Regions from separate parts of the Homo sapiens genome. Here all the other regions are linked to region 1. Evidence: fine-mapped expression QTL. A gene starts in region 1. Each other region holds a variant in brackets. All regions are shown on one strand. Distances are from middle to middle. Region 1 holds the start of CILP (cartilage intermediate layer protein). Region 2 overlaps PARP16 (poly(ADP-ribose) polymerase family member 16). Region 3 overlaps PARP16 (poly(ADP-ribose) polymerase family member 16).

What was found. PIP is the estimated chance that this variant, and not a neighbour inherited with it, causes the effect.
Region 2: its variant is the best candidate, but not a certain one, in a credible set for the expression of CILP in whole blood (TOPMed, PIP 0.65).
Region 3: its variant is the best candidate, but not a certain one, in a credible set for the expression of CILP in whole blood (TOPMed, PIP 0.62).

The regions. Positions count from the first base shown.
Region 1 is chr15:65,210,374-65,212,873 of GRCh38, reverse strand. CILP (cartilage intermediate layer protein) reads left to right here and starts at 1,401. Exons shown (of 9, transcript NM_003613.4): 1 at 1,401-1,446. RefSeq lists an enhancer at 1-772.
Region 2 is chr15:65,278,447-65,281,293 of GRCh38, reverse strand. All of the region lies in intron 1 of PARP16 (poly(ADP-ribose) polymerase family member 16), which reads left to right. Among named protein-coding and RNA genes, the nearest start is that of SNORA24B, 5.7 kb to the left of the region's middle. The variant T/C (reference allele first, on the strand shown) is at 1,674.
Region 3 is chr15:65,265,837-65,268,683 of GRCh38, reverse strand. It overlaps PARP16 (poly(ADP-ribose) polymerase family member 16), which reads left to right. Exons shown (of 6, transcript NM_001316943.2): 3 at 1,916-2,122. Among named protein-coding and RNA genes, the nearest start is that of SNORA24B, 18 kb to the left of the region's middle. The variant T/C (reference allele first, on the strand shown) is at 1,550.

The sequences.
Region 1 (2,500 bases):
CACACACACACAGAACTCTCTGGCATGTGGGTATGCACTGTTGTACTACGGGATCATTTCCACGTGAGGCTCTTTCCTCTGAGTGCAAGGATACATCTCTTTTCTTGTGCCTTCCCAGTGCCCAGTCTAGAGCCTGGGAATAAGAGCTCGGTAAAGGTATGTGGAGAGAGTGAGCTGACCCTGGCGTGGATGGCCACAGGACCAGGCCTCCATCTCCAGTTGCTGGCATGAGGCAGGAAGCCCAGCCCAGGCTAGATGAGCCTGCTACATGGGGCAGGACCTGGGAAGCTCCCACTGTGGTCCTTAGTACACTCGCTCTTCATCTTCTTCCTTCAACTGGGGCTCTATCACTGTGACCAGTCAATCTCAAAATGTGATCCATGAACCAACAGCATCAATCTCATCTGGGAACTTGTTAGAATGCAAAGTCTCAGGCCCCACTGAATCAGAAACTCTGGGTGTGGGGTCCAGAAATCTGCTTTAACCGCCCTCCAGGTGATTCTAACACATGCTAAAATTAGAGAACCAGTGTCTGTGCAAACAGATAACCTCATGCTGGGGCCAGGGGGCCGGGAGTGGGGGTGTGAAGCCCCAGAGCACATGCAGCTGCATACGCCCCCTATGGGTAACACTGGCTGTTCACATGCTGGTGGATGCCTATACCTGAAGGCAGACACGTACTCACACGCATGCACATATATGAGCATCAGGGTCTCAGAAGAGTCCACATGCTGGAGCTCTGGGGTCTCAGTGGGTACCAGCAGGCACTCAGATGGAAGTGGGGGGGAGAAAGGAAGAACTGTTCTCACCAGCTGACAACCTATGCCCCACAATTCTTTTGTCCCTTATCCCTTCTGAGGTTCCCTGAGTGTTCCCTCAGAAGCCAGAGAAGCTGAGTAGTTGCCCAACTCAGACCAGACACACCCAGCTGAGAGGCCAAGGTGGCCTGTGTGCCTAAGAGTGTTTGGAGTATGTGCTAAGACCAGCAAAGTCTTTTCTCTGTGTGGGCGAGCCAGGGCCAGGGGAATGTGGGGCATCAGCAAGCTAGGCTTAGGCAAGAGCACACCATCCCCCGGGCCATGAAATGCTGCCCAGATCTAGAATTCCCCGTGGCCCCTTCCCAGGGCTGTTTCTAGTGCCCAGCCCACCTCCTGACCCCTCTCTCTGCTCTGGACTGTGATGCCCCAGGCCACTGCCCACCTGGCCCATCACCAGGTCCTGCGGCATCTCCTCCTTAGGATCTGGACATAAAATCCTGGCCTCTGTGAACTGCAAGGGGACATGGGGAGGGGAGAGGGAGGCTCATGCTCAGATCTGGTTTCGCTGCTGCTTCCTCTGGCTGGCTGCCACAGGCTGAGCCACCAGCTGTGCTATATAAGGCCGGCACTGGACTGCTGGAGAGGCGAAGGCTTGGACCCCCAGCTGAGGAGTCCTGCTCAAGACACGGTGAGCTCCACTCCTATTCCCCTCACCCCATCCCTGCACCCCACTGCTGGACTCAACTGCTCCTGCCCTCCCCTGACTACTCCATTCCCTTCTCCCCACTTCCCCCCACTTTTTGCTGCCTGATCCTTCATCTCCCACAGAGAAGACTCCCTTTCTGCTTTGGGAATCTGCTTTCCCCCATTGGCCCAAAGTCCTCTCCCTCCCCCACCTGAGGACAGGAACCCCCAGATGGTCCCACTTAGGGTTTCCATACCTCTGGGTGCCCTGCTTTATTCCCTGCGGTCAGCCAGTCTGCTTTGTCCAAGTGTTCTGAGGAGCGTGGGATGGCAAGCCTAACCATCAGGGCATATGCTGAGGAAACGGCGGAGATGCTGAGAAACCTCTGTGGGCTGCCAGATGGGAAATGGTTTTTCCACAAGGTGTCTCAGGCCACCTCAGCCTCCAGACATCCCTGGAGCAGGCTCAGGCTCAGGCTGAATGCAGTGCAGGCCAGCAGACTGCTCAGCTCCCTGCTTGGAGCCCAGAGGGATACACACAATGTGGAGGCCTTTGGGACGTCCTGGTGACTCTGCTCCCTCATCCGAGAAACAGGTAGTGGTGGGGCCAGTGGTTTTAGAGCTAGAAGGTCTGCAGCATGGGACTGGTTTTTTCTTCCCCTGGAATATCCCAGTGTTTTCAGATATGTGTATTTTTTAGAGAGGAGGACTCTTCCCTTTCCTACCACACCCTGGACTTAGGATGTTGAAGGGAACCACTTTTGAATCCCCAGAAACGAGTCAGATTCTGGGTTGGCCGGAGCTCTGGGGAGACATAAAAATGTTCTGCTCAGCTGCGGCCTGGGCCACGCACGCCCCATAGTTCCTTGCCCTTGTCCCAGGCCTGCTTTCCTCTCCTGACCCTTGCAGTTCCTCACCCACGCTCAGCAGTTACTGGGGAGCCCTGGCCTCTCACAATGCATCCCCTCTGCTTTCCGTCAGCTGGCTCCTGGCTGTGTAACTCCCAGTCAGGCCCCAAACAAAAAGGCCAGAAATGTGTTCCAGCTGCAGCCCGTGCA
Region 2 (2,847 bases), 68 kb before region 1:
TTTCTCACCTTGCTTTTTGGGACCAGGGTTGGATGAGAGAACCTGTAACATTCTTGGGATTCCCTGTACCCCTTAACCATTGGCCTCCGAACTTCAGGTTTGTCACTTGACACAGTCGCAGCTGTACAGTTTTTTGTTCTGTTTTCCCTCCCGAAATAGCATGTTCTGGTTCTCCATTAGCCTGTAGACCCTTTCTGGGGGTGGGAAGTGTGTGGGAATGGCTTCTTTGTGTTAGCTCCAGGCCCTCGCTGCTTAGTGTGGTTGAGGACCAGCAACATGAGCCTCACCTGGGTGCTCATTAGAAAAGCAGGTCCTGCCTCAGACCTATCCAGTCAGGATCTGCATTTTAACAAATCTGGGCAATTTGTACACATAGTGAAGTCTGAAAAGCACTGCATGAAGCTTACCCTGTTCTCATTTGGGGTGCCAAACTGCTCTAATTGGGCCTCCTGGTCCTGGAGGAGTAAGGAGTCTTTCTCTTTTTTTTCCTCCCTCTTTCTGGTTTCTGGCTTGCACTGTCTAGACACCATGACTCCCCAGTGTCTGGGTTAAAGCGCATATAAGCTCCTCTCTGTCCTGAGCCCTCCTGATGCCATTTCCATCTTTGTTGAAGCAAACTCCCTCTCATCCTTTAAGATACACGTGAAATTTCCACCTTATTCTGTGCCTCCACTCCCTAGCAGTTAGGAGTCCTTCTTTTGGGTTTCTTTATAATTTTAAAATTTTGCTTTTATAAATAATACTTTGATAAACATCCTTCTACATTAATCATTGTTTATATCTGTTGTTGTCTTCTTGGATACATTCTGAGAGGTGAAATTGCTGGTCCATGGCTAATTTTTTTTTTTTTTTTTTTTGAGACGAGTTCTTGCTCTGTTGCCCAGTTTGGAGTGCAGTGGCGTGATCTTGGCTCAGTGCAACCTCTGCCTCCCGGGCTCAAGCGATCCTCCTACGTCAGCCTCCCGTGTAGCTGGGACTCCACGCACATACCACTAAGCCTGGCTAATTTTTGTATTTTTAGTAGAGATGGGGTTTCACCATGTTGCCCAGGCTGGTCTCAAACTCCTGGAGTCAAGCAATCCGCCTGTCTCAACCTTCCAAAATGCTGGGATTACAGGCGTGAACCACCACACCTGGCTCATGGCTAACCTTTCTAAGGAAGGCTTTCGATGCTTATTTCCATATTGGAAATTGAATATTGACATTAACTGGGGAAGATCGTTATTATTATTATTATTGGATTAAAAGAAAAAAGGCAGGAGTCTCGCTATGTTGCCTAGCTGGTCTACAAACTCCTGGTCTCAAGCAGGAGTTGTGTCATTGAGCCCGGTTTGGAAAGATCATTCTTTACAAGCCTCTCAACCTTGGTTGTCATTGAAATCACGTGGGAAACTAAGGAAAAAAAAAAACCCTGACGTCTGAGCCCCATCCTCAGAGATTCTCATTTGATTGGTTTAAAGTGCAGCCTTGGCATTGAGATTTTTTGTTTGTTTCCTTACAGATAATATGTAGCTTTTCTATTTTTCTAGTAACTGATTTGATCATTTTCATGAGCACCCATACCTGCTGGATGGTGAGGAAATGATAACAATTAGATTTGTTAATAATAAAAGTGCCTATTAGGTCTATACTTGATATCTCAAGGTAAGATTCTTGATCTCTCAGATTACCTT[T/C]TTATTTCTCTGCTCCTCTCAAAGATGGCATCTGAACAGTGGAGGAGAAAAAGTACACAGGTCTGAAAATATATGGATACAGACATAGATACATATAATATTATGTGACTGTCAGTGGGTAGGTATGTGTCTAGAAAGATATCAGCTAATGGGATGGTGATATGGAGGGTGAAGGGGTGGGATCCATCCCTCCAGGACCAGCCATCTCTTTCCTTCCAACGATCCCAGAAATGCAGACCTTTCCTCAGCAGATTGGTGAGCAGCAGAGAGAGGGTATTTGATTGATAATAATAATATAGCAACCAACACCTGTACCACACTAATAGCACTTACTGTTTGTGTGGCGCTGTCTTGAGCTGTTACTACACGTAGCTCATTTAATCCTCCTAACAACTCAGGGTTGTAGGTTTTAGTATTATCTTCATCACCATCAGCTAATCACTGGACGTGGTGATGGCACACCACTCTTGCTCCCAGGCACTAGGACTTTTAAAAGTTCCTAGGAGAACCCCTACTTCCTAGGAGAACCCTTTAGGGTCCCCATGCTGGCTCCTCCTGTGAAGAGTTCTTTTGTAGACTCTGATCCCTAATCTGTTTTGGCAAATCTGGCCTTTCATACTGTAGGTTTGTGCAAAGCAAATTGTACCTGTGGTGTCCACCTCTTCAGCCTTCATTTCAGCAGCCTTCTAGCTCCACTCATCGCCCCTGCCCCACTGTTCTGGGTGTCACTGTGGTCCCAAAAATGGTGACCTTGGCAGACCTTTGGTTCATTTCCTTCTCAGCACCTCCACCCACATCTAGTAACTGTGACCTCTGACACTTTCCTAGACAAGTATGTTTTTCAGATGTTTGTTCTTTCCTGCTGCCGCACCTTTCTAGGACAACATTGTCTAAGATCTAAACCTGAGTATCTCCAGCTTTTCCTGATGATAAGAATCACTTGTACCCACATCTGTAATCACAGATTCCTGGGCCACCTCCTCCCCAGGAGCTTGTGATCTAAGTGATTGCTCCTGCTCCAAGCAAGGAGGTTGAGTTGCTTCCTTGTAGCTCATTGGTCCTCTCTTTCCTCTGTGAGGCCTATTCACCCAAAGTACCTCTTTCCTAAGAGGCTTCTCTTCCCAAACCCCTGAGGCTCTCAGCTCTGCTCACCATTCAGATTCCCCCAGCTATC
Region 3 (2,847 bases), 56 kb before region 1:
TTGCTTGAGGCTGGAGTTCAAGACCAGCCTGGGCAACATAGCAAGACCCTCTGTCTATGAAAAATTTAAGAATTAGGTGCACATAGTAGTTGCACCTATAGTCCCAGCTACTCAAGAAACTGAGGATAGAGGATTGCTCGAACCCAGGAGTTCAAGGCTGCGATGAGCTAGGATCACACCACTGCACTCCAGCCTGGGCGACAGAGCCAGATCCTGTCTCAAAAACAACAACAGCAACAAATGCTAATTGCTTCTCATGATTTTGTGGGTTGGTTGGGTGGTTCTGGGCTTGGCTGGATGAGCTAGGGTGGCCTCACTTACATTTCTGGGGCTTCAGCTGGGATGGCCACCATGCTGGAAGCCTTCCTCTGTGAGGCTCATACTCTATAGCAGACAAGCCAGGACAATGGTGAGGGGTTCTCAGCAGCAAAGAAGGAAAGACAAGCCCTTCTCAAGTCTCTGTTTGCTATATATATGTTAATGTCCCGTTGGCCAAAGCAGGTCACATGGCCAAGCACAGTCTTAAGGGTGGAGAAGTAGGTTCCATCTTTTGATGGGATCTTGGTAGAATCCCACCTGCAAAACCACATTGCAGAGGGGTGCATGGACAAGGATGAGAGGGAATTTTTACAATAAACATGAGATGATTGTAAAAATGGAATGCAGGAGATAGATGTAAAAGTGTTAGGAAGTGGCCGGGCGTGGTGGCTCACGCCTGTAATCCCAGCACTTTGGGCGGCTGAGGCGGGTGGATCACGAGGTCAGGAGTTCAAGACCAGCCTGGCCAAGATGGTGAAACCCCATCTCTACTAAAAATACAAAAAAAATTAGCCAGGGGTGGTGGCACGCACTTGTAATCCCAGCTACTCCGGAGGCTGAGGCAGAGAATTGCTTAAAAAACCTGGAGGGGCAGAGGTTGCAGTGAGCTGAGATGGCGTCACTGCACTCCAGCCTGGGCGACAGAGCGAGACTGTCTCAAAAAAAAAAAAAAAAAAAAAAAAAAAAGTTAGGAAAATTAGAAGTGATCTCCACTTATTTTTTTAATTATTATTTAATTAATTAATTTATTTATTTTTTGAGACGGAGTCTCGCTCTGTCGCCCAGGCTGGAGTGCAGTGGCGCCATCTCGGCTCACTGCAAGCTCTGCCTCCTGGGTTCACACCATTCTCCTGCCTCAGCCTCCCGAGTAGCTGGGACTACAGGCGCCCACCACCACGCCCGGCTAATTTTTTGTATTTTTAGTAGAGACGGGGTTTCACCGTGTTAGCTGGGATGGTCTTGATCTCCTGACCTCATGATCCGCCTGCCTCGGCCGCCCAAAGTGCTGGGATTACAGGTGTGAGCCACCGCACCCAGCCCTGTGATCTCCACTTAGAAGGAGCAATTCATGCTTCTCAGCCTACTGTAGGGAAAAATGTTATTATTTATTATTATTATTTTTTTAAATGGAGTTTCACTCTTGTTGCCCAGTCTGGAGTACAGTGACGTGATCTCTGCTCACTGCAACCTCCACCTCCCAGGTTCAAGTGATTCTTCTGCCTCAGCCTCC[T/C]AAGTAGCTGGGACTAAAGGTGTGCACTGCCACACCCGGCTAATTTTGTATTTTTAGTAGAGATGGGGTTTCACCATGTTGGTCAGGCTGGTCTCGAACTCCTGACCTCAAATGATCCACCTGCCTCGGCCTCCCAAAGTTTTGGGATTACAGGTGTGAGCCACCACACCCGACCGGGAAAAATGTTATTAAAGAAAGCAGTCTTGTGCTATACGCTCTGAGTTTGCTTATGTCTCTATCCTCATGAAACCTGTTGTTCTCATGAGCAGAGTCCATGGGAGTTAAGCCTGAGAGTTTAGGGGGCTATTTTTGCAGCACATTTACCAGCTCCCCAAATAAAATTTTGATGCTCTTCATGTTTTCAAGTTTGAAAAGATCCAAAAGCTGACTGGGGCTCCTCACACGCCTGTTCCTGCACCGGACTTCCTGTTTGAAATTGAGTACTTTGACCCAGCCAACGCCAAATTTTATGAGACCAAAGGAGAACGAGACCTAATCTATGCATTTCATGGTAGCCGCCTAGAAAACTTCCATTCCATTATCCACAATGGCCTGCACTGCCATCTGAACAAGGTGGGGCCTAAGGGACACCCTGCTGATGTGGGGAAGCAGGGATGGAGGTGGGAGAGTGGGGAGGGGGAGATTCAGAACCCTAGGAGTTTGCAGGTGGGGTCGGGTAGGTTTACTAACGCCTTCTCACTCAAAATGTGGTCTGCACACCAGCAGTGGCAGCATCACCTGGAGACCTAAGAAAATGCAAAATCTTGGGCACACTCTAGACCTTCTGAATCAGAACCTGCATTTTAACAAGATCTCTAGGTGATTCCTGCACTGGTTATAGTTTGAAAAGCGTCGATTTAAAGATAGTTCCCGACCTTGGCTGCATATTTAGAATCACTCGGGGAGCTTTTAAAAATCCCAGATGCCAGGCCTGGCGCAGTGGCTCACGCCTGTAATCCCAGGACTTTGGGAGGCTGAGGGAGTTCCAGACCAGCCTGGCCAACGTGGTGAAACCCCATCCATACTAAAAATACAAAAATTAGCCGGGCATGGTGGTGGGTGCCTGTAATCCCAGCTACTCGGGAGGCTGAGGCAGGAGAATTGCTTGAACCTGGGAGGCAGAGGTGGCAGTGAGCTGAGATCGTGCCATTGCACTCCAGCCTAGGTGACAGAGTGAGACTCCATCTCAAAAATTAAAAAATAAAATAAATAAATAATAAAAAATCCCAGATGCCTGGCTGCATCCCAGACCAATTAAATGAGAATCTCCGAGTGGAGCACAGGCATCAGTTGCTTTA